Linked DNA regions of Homo sapiens. The protein of the gene in region 1 interacts with the protein of each later gene in a pairwise test. Each region holds a gene or a part of one and is shown in the gene's direction. Other genes may lie near its edges.

Evidence for each region.
Region 2: the proteins of SPMIP2 (region 1) and C1orf35 interact in binary tests that used the Homo sapiens proteins (3 or more experiments, as listed by UniProt).

The regions. Positions count from the first base shown.
Region 1 is NC_000004.12:159,032,369-159,036,812, reverse strand, and holds the start of SPMIP2 (protein SPMIP2), read left to right. Parts: upstream 1-1,583; 5' UTR 1,584-1,716; coding exon 1,717-1,780; intron 1,781-4,444.
Region 2 is NC_000001.11:228,100,526-228,104,795, reverse strand, and holds C1orf35 (multiple myeloma tumor-associated protein 2), read left to right. Parts: upstream 1-1,470; 5' UTR 1,471-1,568; coding exon 1,569-1,662; intron 1,663-1,746; coding exon 1,747-1,897; intron 1,898-2,107; coding exon 2,108-2,153; intron 2,154-2,235; coding exon 2,236-2,318; intron 2,319-2,413; coding exon 2,414-2,486; intron 2,487-2,630; coding exon 2,631-2,716; intron 2,717-2,881; exon of another isoform or gene 2,882-3,061; intron 3,062-3,322; coding exon 3,323-3,457; intron 3,458-3,541; coding exon 3,542-3,665; 3' UTR 3,666-4,065; downstream 4,066-4,270.

The DNA.
Region 1 (4,444 bases):
GCAGGCCATAGGAAGGTAAAGAAGAGCATAATGCAGGTCAGAACCAAAGAAAATGACACCAAAGATCAGTAACACAACAGCGACTGACTCTAGTTGCCCACATTGGGGAAATATATTCAGTTTCTGGTTAGGAGGGCTGAGTGGTTAAAATGAGAAGCACTCTTGTATAATACATTTGTGCATATGTGCTTATGCTGTCTAGTTATCTCAGGTCGGGTTCTCTGAAAGTGGGGGGCAAGGTGGTTATTTGGGTTCAATACCTGTGAAAGGAAAGGTGAGGAAGCAGGACTGATCAGAGGAAGAAGAAGAACTGTAAGGGCTCAACACAGCCTTGACCAACCTGGTGAGAAATGACTGGTCTTTATACCTCTACCTCATTCAGTACCTGACATAGGCTCCCCTGGAAAAGGCTTGACCTCAGACAGAGGAGGCAGCTCTCTGCAGCCAAGGCAGACCCCGAAGGTGCTGACAGCTGGACACTGTCTGCTGACAGTCCTTCCTCCAGCTGGGCTACAAGCCTTCCTTGAAAGGGAACCTACCTGAGTAGCACATCTCTTTGCCTACCATAAGCCTACTGTAAGCCTTTCCAGAGTTAATATAGTGTTTTTCTTATAATTCTCAAAATATAAAAGATATTACATTTACAGTAGACAACTCCATATATTTAATGTTGAATACAAAATTACTGTTAGAATTTATCTTCAATGGATTATCAGGTAGCCGATATATTTCTGTGCAAGCTAGAATTACTGTTCATACAATTATTCATCCCACAAACATCTATTAACTATTTATTGCATACAAGTCTCTGGAAATTGAAATATAAATAAGTATACTTTTATCATAAACTCCTAGAAGTCAGATTCTAGTGGGGAGGTCGATAAAATAGACAAATAATTGAAGTGGTGAGTTAAAAAGATACATCTAAACACAGTGCTATAGAGGTTAAAGGGACATGAAGAAGAAAGCACTTAGCTGTGTCTGCAGACATCCTCCTGGAAGAGCAGATGTGGGCCTTGGCTGTCAAAGGACAAGAAATATTTGCATAGCAACATTACAGGAAGAGCAAATTGTATGTGTAAAGGCTCAGAACAATGAGAAAGCATTGCACAGATTGAGAACCACAGGTAAATTGACATGACCAAAGCACAAGCACTATTTAAGGAGGGATTGGAATATGAGACTGGAAATATATCTATATATATTTGTGTGTGTGTAATTATCTCATTAATTTATTAATGTTATTTTTTACTGTATTTTATCTTGCCAGTGTTTGTCAAATATATTTAACCATGGTTTGTGGGGGCTTTTTGTTTTTTGCTGTAACATATTTCTGCAAGACATTCTTTTTGAAATGTTGAAAGACAGTGGTGACTGAGCCTGCCAGATTATCTGGGACATAAGCTGGAACTGGATCTAGTACCTGTGAACAAGTGTATTCTGACTTGATATTGACAAATAAGGAAAAGTTATTACTGGATGCAAGTTCTGGGAAGACTATAGCAGTATCTGTCTCTGCTCTTGGAGATTGGAATGCAGAACTCTGCAAGGAGGAACATTCTATCTCCCTGTCATAAAGAGTCATTAGCAACCACCTGGTGCAGGTCACAAGCAGGGAGAGGAAAGACTGCAGAGTCTTTCGTTCTTTCTGGTGCAGCTTAACTGATTTGAAGAAGCCGAAGAAGAAAATCCAGTAGCACGGTTAAGACTTTAGCCATGGCATCTGTATCATACCAAAAGCCAACATCTACTACTGTGGGAAAACAAATGATTTTTACAGGTAAATAGTTTTTGTGTTTGCTTTCACAAGGAGATCTAAATTTGCTTTTTCTCTCACATATATGATTTTTATATAATGGATATAACAATGCAATGATCACATATGTTTTTTGTTTTTGTTTGTTTTTTGGGTTTTTTTTTTTGAGACAGAGTCTCGCTCTGTCGCCCAGGCTAGAGTACAATGGCGCGATCTCGGCTCACTGCAACCTCCGCCACCTGGGTTCAAGAGATTCTCCAGCCTCAGCTTCCTGAGTAGCTGGGATTACAGGCATCTGCCATCATGCCCAGCTAATTTTTGTATTTTTGTAAAGATGAGGGTTTCACCATGTTGGCCAGGCTGGCCTTGAACTCCTGACCTCAGGTGATCTGCCTGCATAGGCCTCCCAAAGTGCTGGGATTACAGGCATCAGCCACCATGCCCAACCCACCTACATTTAATTTACATGATACTGCTATCTCATTATGCCCACTCAGTCTGATCATCATCATCTTGTTGCCATAAACATGTCTTTAACACAGCAGTTGTCACTATATCTGAGGTAACTTTCACAAAGGAATATTTGAATTAGCATAGCTTTTATGGTTTGTGCAAGAGAAACTTCTTTGATGTAATAAAAAACATACTTTTCATCGAATTTTTATTAACACTGATTTAAGCTTCTCATAACATTATAAACTTGACATATTTGCTTGATAAAAATTTGAGCAGGATATGCATTAAACCTAGTAAAGTGATTGGTTTGAGTTTTGTTCATTCAGCTTACTTTAAATGATTTGGGCAGTGTGTGTGAAATTATAATAATATCTAAAAAATAGAAGATGACTAGTTGTGGTAAGTCTATAAGGCATAAACTAAACTTCATTTTATTTCCTTTTTTTCCAAATTATTTATTTTTTGAGACAGAGTCTCGCCCTGTTGCCCAGACTAGGGTGCAATGGCACGATCTGGGCTCTCTGCACCCTCCACCTCCCAGGTTCAAGTGTTTCTCCTGCCTCAGTCTCCCGAGTAGCTAGGACTATAGGCACATGCCACCACATGTGGTTGTTTATTTATTTATTTATTTTGTACTTTTAGTAGAAATGGGGTTTCACCATGTTGGCTAGGCTGGTCTCGAACTCCTGACCTCAAGTGATCCACCCACCTGTGTCGGGATTCCAGGCGTGAACCTGGCCTTTTTTTCTTTTTTTCCAAAGTGTGAGCATATTTTACAATGTTACAGAAAAATAATCAAATGCATATTTATGGTGGGCATTTATGATTTGTGTTGCTCATCATCCATCTCATCCACTCCCCTTCTTGTGACTCACTTGGCTTTGGGAAAAACATCTCTTTCCTCACTCTTACCTCTTTTTTACTCCTGTGAGAAGGACTTTGTCAACAAGAGTACACTGCTTATCTGCAATTCCTTTTGCCTTTATTCTTATAAACTCTATTCATTTCCAAAGTTACTTAAGTCTGCACATTTTCTTTCTAGCCTCTTCAGTAAGGTTGTTTTATGCACTTGTAATACAGTTAGATTTTCTTGTCACAGTCTGAATTCCTTCCTGAAATCCTACAATCTCGTAAATAATTTTTTTTAATTTGCATCCATTAAGGTTTGCTTTTTATGCTATTAAATATATGGGGGTCTTGACAAATTAATAGGACCATGTATTCACCATTATAGTACCATACGTTATGGTTTCACCACTTAAAAAATCTCTTGTGCTTCACCTATTCATTCCCCCCTCCCCCTTTCCCCCTAGCTCCTGGCAACCACTGATCTTTTCACTGTCTCCACAGTTTTGCCTTTTCTTGAATGTCACAGAGCTGGAGTTATACAGTATGTAGTCTTTTCAGATTGGCTTCATTTCCTCATCAATATCATTTTAAGGCTTCTCCACATCTTTTCATGGTTTGATAGCTTATTTCTTTTTACCACTGAATAATATTTCACTGTGTGGATGTGTCACAATTTGTTCATCCCTTCCCCTATCGAAAGACATCTTGGTGGCTTCCAGTTTTTGGCAATTGTGAGAAATGCTTCTATGTACATTTATGTGCAGCCTTTTGCATGGATATGTTTTCAAATCAATTTGGTAAATACCTAGGAGAGTAATTGCTGGATCCTGTGTTAAGCCAAACTGTCTTCTAAACTAGCTATACTATTTTGCATGTCCATCAGCAATGAATGAGAGTCCTTGTTGCTTTGTGTCCTTGTCAGCCTTTGGTATTGTCTGTTTTTGACTTTTTTACCAAAAAAAAAAAAAAAGAAAGGTCATTTAGATTTTTATCCTGTGTTTTCTTTTAGACATTTTACAATGTTACGTTTTCATTTAGGTCTATAATCTATTTTGAAGAGATTTTTGTGCCTTTTAAAGTTTTAATTTTCATCAGCCAATAAATCTCCTCTTTTCCTTAGCCAGTTTGGGTTGGGTTTTCTGTCATTTGGAACTGTGCAAGAGTCTTAATTAACACTTAAAATTTCTTCTAACTTACACCAGTGTATATACTTAGTTTTATGTATTTACATAGTTCAAATTGTTGTCACCTTTGATAGATTTCTGCCTTTCATTATACTGACATATAATACTTAGCTTCACAGCCTCCTGTATTTTATAATTTCCTAATTTTTACTGTTACAAATTTGTATGAATACTTTGCATAAATTATTTTTCTTGTTCT
Region 2 (4,270 bases), on another chromosome or scaffold:
AGTAGAGTTCCCACAAGGGAGTGCCCCACACCATCCTGAGATGGGGCTGGTTAGGATTCTACAGATTGAGCATGCCAGGGTGATTCGCCCAGAGCATTTATTCGTGGGGCTTTTGTACAGAGTGGGCTGCAGCAGTTCTTGCAATAGGCAGTGAGAGAAATGAAGTTCTCTCTAGGTATGTCCGTGGGGGAGGGGGTTGGTGAATGGAATTTATATGAGGGTTTGAGGAATCTGGCTCAGGCTGAGTCCAGTTTCTTTCTGTGTTTTGAGCAACAACCTAGTTACTGTCATCTGTGCCTGGGAACGTTCATGGCTATGGCTCGGGTTCAAGTCTGCAGAGGAAATTATACAGTTGGCGAAGTCACAGAGTGGCCAAGGGACTCTGTTTCTCAGTCAGCACTGGGAATGAAAGTGGAAAGGGGAAGCAGGGGTACGTCACAACCTCCAAAATCAGGGTGCCCAGCACGCTGAGGTTCTGGTAAGGGGTTTCTTCCAGACTGCAGACTTCCTTCCCGCTGCCTTCACACAGTAGAAAGCTGCACAAAGCTCTTGGGGTCCCTTTTATGAAGGCTCTGTCCTCATGACCTAGTCACCTCCGAAGCACCAACGCCTTGGGGTGAGGATTTCACATGGGAGTTAGGGTGCACATTCAGTTTAACACGGCAGGGATAGGACCAGTGCTCTGAGGGTGTCTGGGTAGCTGCTGGTTCATCCAGAAGTTTACTGGGTAATACTCAGAAATTCCACAAATCATTAAGGTCATTACCTTGTTAAGCTCCCGATATGGAATCGCGACTAGCAGTGACCAATTGGCGGTGTTAACTAGGCGCATCTTGTGTGTTTTCTTTTTTCTTTTTTTATGAGACAGGGTCCGCTCACTCGTTCAGGTTGGAGTGCAGTGGCGCGAAGTCCTGGGTTCGAGATCCTCCCGCCTCAGCCTCAAAGCGTTGGGGCTACAGGGGCGCGCGCGCGCCTGGCCCATTTTAACTTCTTATTTTTGAGACAGTCTCGCTCTGTCGCCCAGGCGGGAGTGCAGTGGCGCGATCTCGGCTCACTGCAACCTCTGCCTCCCGGCTCAAGTGATTCTCCTGCTTCAGCCTCCTGAGTAGCTGGAATTACAGGTGTGCACCACCACACCCGGCTAATTTTTGTATTTGAGTAGAGACCGGGTTTCACCATGTTGGACAGGCTAGTCTCGAACTCCCGACCTCAAGCGATCCGCCCGCCTCGGCCTCCCAACTTGCTGGGATTACAGGCGAGAGCCACTCCGCCCGGCCCCGTTTTAACCATTTTTAAACTTCCAGTTCAGAGGCGTTCCCGCGCCCGGCAGGGTAGGCGCAGTGCGCAGGCGCCCAAAGCCGACGTGGAGGTGATGCGCGGGAGCACAGATCCGGGGCAGTGCGCTGCGCAGAGGCGCGCGGCGAAGCCGAGTGGGCGCGGGAGTGACGTCACGGCGCGCGACGCGGAGGCGGGGTCGGGCCTGGGTCCGACGGTAGTGGGTAGCGGGTCTCGGGTTGCGGGTTGCAGGTTGCAAGCCGCAGGCCCCAGGCAACTGCCTTCCCGGCGCCATGTTCGGCTCCAGTCGTGGAGGCGTGCGCGGCGGGCAGGACCAGTTCAACTGGGAGGACGTGAAGACTGACAAGCAGCGGGAGAACTACCTGGGTGGGTGCGCGCGGTGGGCGGGCTCCGGGCTCCGGGCTCCGGGATCCCGGGCGGGCGCTGGACTCACAGCGTCTACGTCCGCAGGCAACTCGCTGATGGCGCCGGTAGGCCGCTGGCAGAAGGGCCGCGACCTCACCTGGTACGCCAAGGGCCGGGCGCCATGCGCGGGCCCGAGCCGCGAGGAGGAACTGGCAGCCGTGCGGGAGGCGGAGCGCGAGGCGCTGCTGGCCGCCCTGTGAGTGTCCGCGGACGGCAGCGGTCGGTGCCTGGGACGGCGCTGCCGGGGCAGGGTGGGGCCGGGGCCGGGGACTGGGGGTCGGGCTGGGCGGGAGCGGGGCTGCGGGGACTCGCGCGGGCGGGACCCTGAGGACGAAGGCTGGAGTGGTGAGGACCTGTGGTGGGAGGAGGTCCGTCCGTCCTGACGCCTGCCCCGGCCCTCTCGCAGTGGCTACAAGAACGTGAAGAAGCAGCCCACGGGCCTGAGCAAGGAGGTAACTCCCCGGGGTGGGGGGCGCGTGGAGGGCCGTGGGTGTGGGGCCGACTCGAGCGCTCCCTGTGCTCTCGCACCTGCAGGACTTCGCGGAGGTCTGCAAGCGGGAAGGAGGCGACCCCGAGGAGAAGGGCGTGGACCGGCTGCTGGGGCTGGGGAGCGCAAGGTGCGGGCGGGTTTCCAGGGGAGGGCAGCACTGGGCTCGATTGCTCGGGTGAGGCGGACCCCTGCCGTACTGTCTTCATCGCCATGTCCCTGCAGTGGCTCCGTGGGCCGCGTGGCGATGTCCCGAGAGGACAAGGAGGCCGCCAAACTGGGGCTGTCTGTGTTCACGGTAATCCCCCGCCCCGCCTGACCGCAGCAGGGGCTAACAGGGGTGGGGCGGGGCGGGGGCACTGAACGGAGCTCCCCGGGGCGCTGCGGGGCGTGGTGTGGGGCCGGCCCGCAGACTCCTCCGCAGAGCTCGCTTCTCCCGCAGCATCACCGCGTAGAGAGCGGCGGGCCCGGGACCTCGGCAGCCTCGGCCAGGAGGAAGCCGCGGGCGGAGGATCAGACGGAAAGCAGGTGAGGCTGTGCCACCTGGGCTAGCTGTGCCCCGGGGTGGGGGGTCTCGGGAGGACCGGAGCGGCTCCCACTCGGGCAGGTGGCAGCTTCTCTTGGCGCACCGGCCCGGCGGGTGGCCTGCCCTACTTTACTTCCTGTCCCAGTTACTCCTAGGTTTTTCTCTAGGGGAGTTTCTCGGGTCACCCTTGAAGAGAGGTCCTAAGTACTGGCAGTGGTCGGGCGCTGTGCCGTGGGAGGGCACTCAGGACCTGGGGCGGGGCCTTTTCCTGCCGTGGGTGGCACCTCCAGGGCTTCTCCTGGATGGTGAGCCTGGGCCTGACCCTAAGAGTGGCCTGGTGGGTGCAGGTAGGAAGGTGTCAACCTGCCAAGGGCACGGCTGGGGTGGGGCAGGGGCGTGCTGTGGAGATGGGGATATTGCATCTGTTTCTAACCCACGTAGCCACTGGCCACGTGACTACGTAACTGAGGAGTGGAATTTGTAGTTTGATTTAACTGATTTAAAGACGCACTTGTGGGTGGTGGCTTCATCTGGATGGGGCCTGCTTGTGTTCACTCTCTTGGCTTGCAAGACTAGGGTCTGAGGCACACCTTGTATCCTCCTTGTAGTTGTGAGAGCCACAGGAAAAGCAAGAAGGAGAAGAAGAAAAAGAAAAAGAGGAAACACAAGAAAGAGAAGAAGAAGAAAGACAAAGAGCACAGGCGGCCAGCTGAGGCCACCTCCTCTCCCACATCTCCTGAGAGGTATGCCCTGGTCCATATCTGCCTCTTGGGGGTGGGGGCCTGGTTGACTCCTTCCGAGTGACTGACTGCCATTGGTCTCCCCAGGCCCAGGCACCACCACCATGACTCCGACTCCAACTCCCCCTGCTGTAAGAGGAGGAAGCGGGGACACAGTGGGGACAGGAGGAGCCCGTCTCGCAGGTGGCATGACAGAGGCTCTGAGGCCTGATGGCTGGACCCTGCTCACTGCTGTTGTGGGACCCTGAACCCTCCCTTCACCTTGCTTGCCTCCTGCCTCGGAAGCTCCTTGGGTGTGGGTGAAGCCCGAGGCTGCTCCTGTGGAAGTGGCTCTGGGCACCAGCCTGTGGGGCTAAAGACTTGACAGCTAGCTCTGGAGCAGCCGGCTTCCTGGAAAACCTCCAGGTTTCGCATACCAGGGATGGCCCCTGGCTTGGCCTGCGAAGGTGAACCTGCCCAGATTTATCAGTAGAGGCTGGACTCCCTCTGTGTCCTGCCCATGGTTGCAGCAGCCATGGGCCTATGAGCGGTCTAACTGTGGCCAAGTATGGTGACCTCTATTTTTCTTTATATTGACTCTTTGTATTTCAATAAATATATTTTAAAAGGAAGGTATATCAAATTGGAAGGTCAGTATCAGGGGTTAATGAGATCCCACTGGAACGTCGGAGCTGGGGTCTGTCTCCCAGGAGTCTGAGACCTGGTGATTTTTTTTTTTTTTGAGTTTCACTTTTGTTGCCCAGGCCGGAGTGCAATGGTGTGATCTCAGTTCACTGCAACCTCCGCCTCGCGGGTTCAAGCGATTTTCCTGTCTCA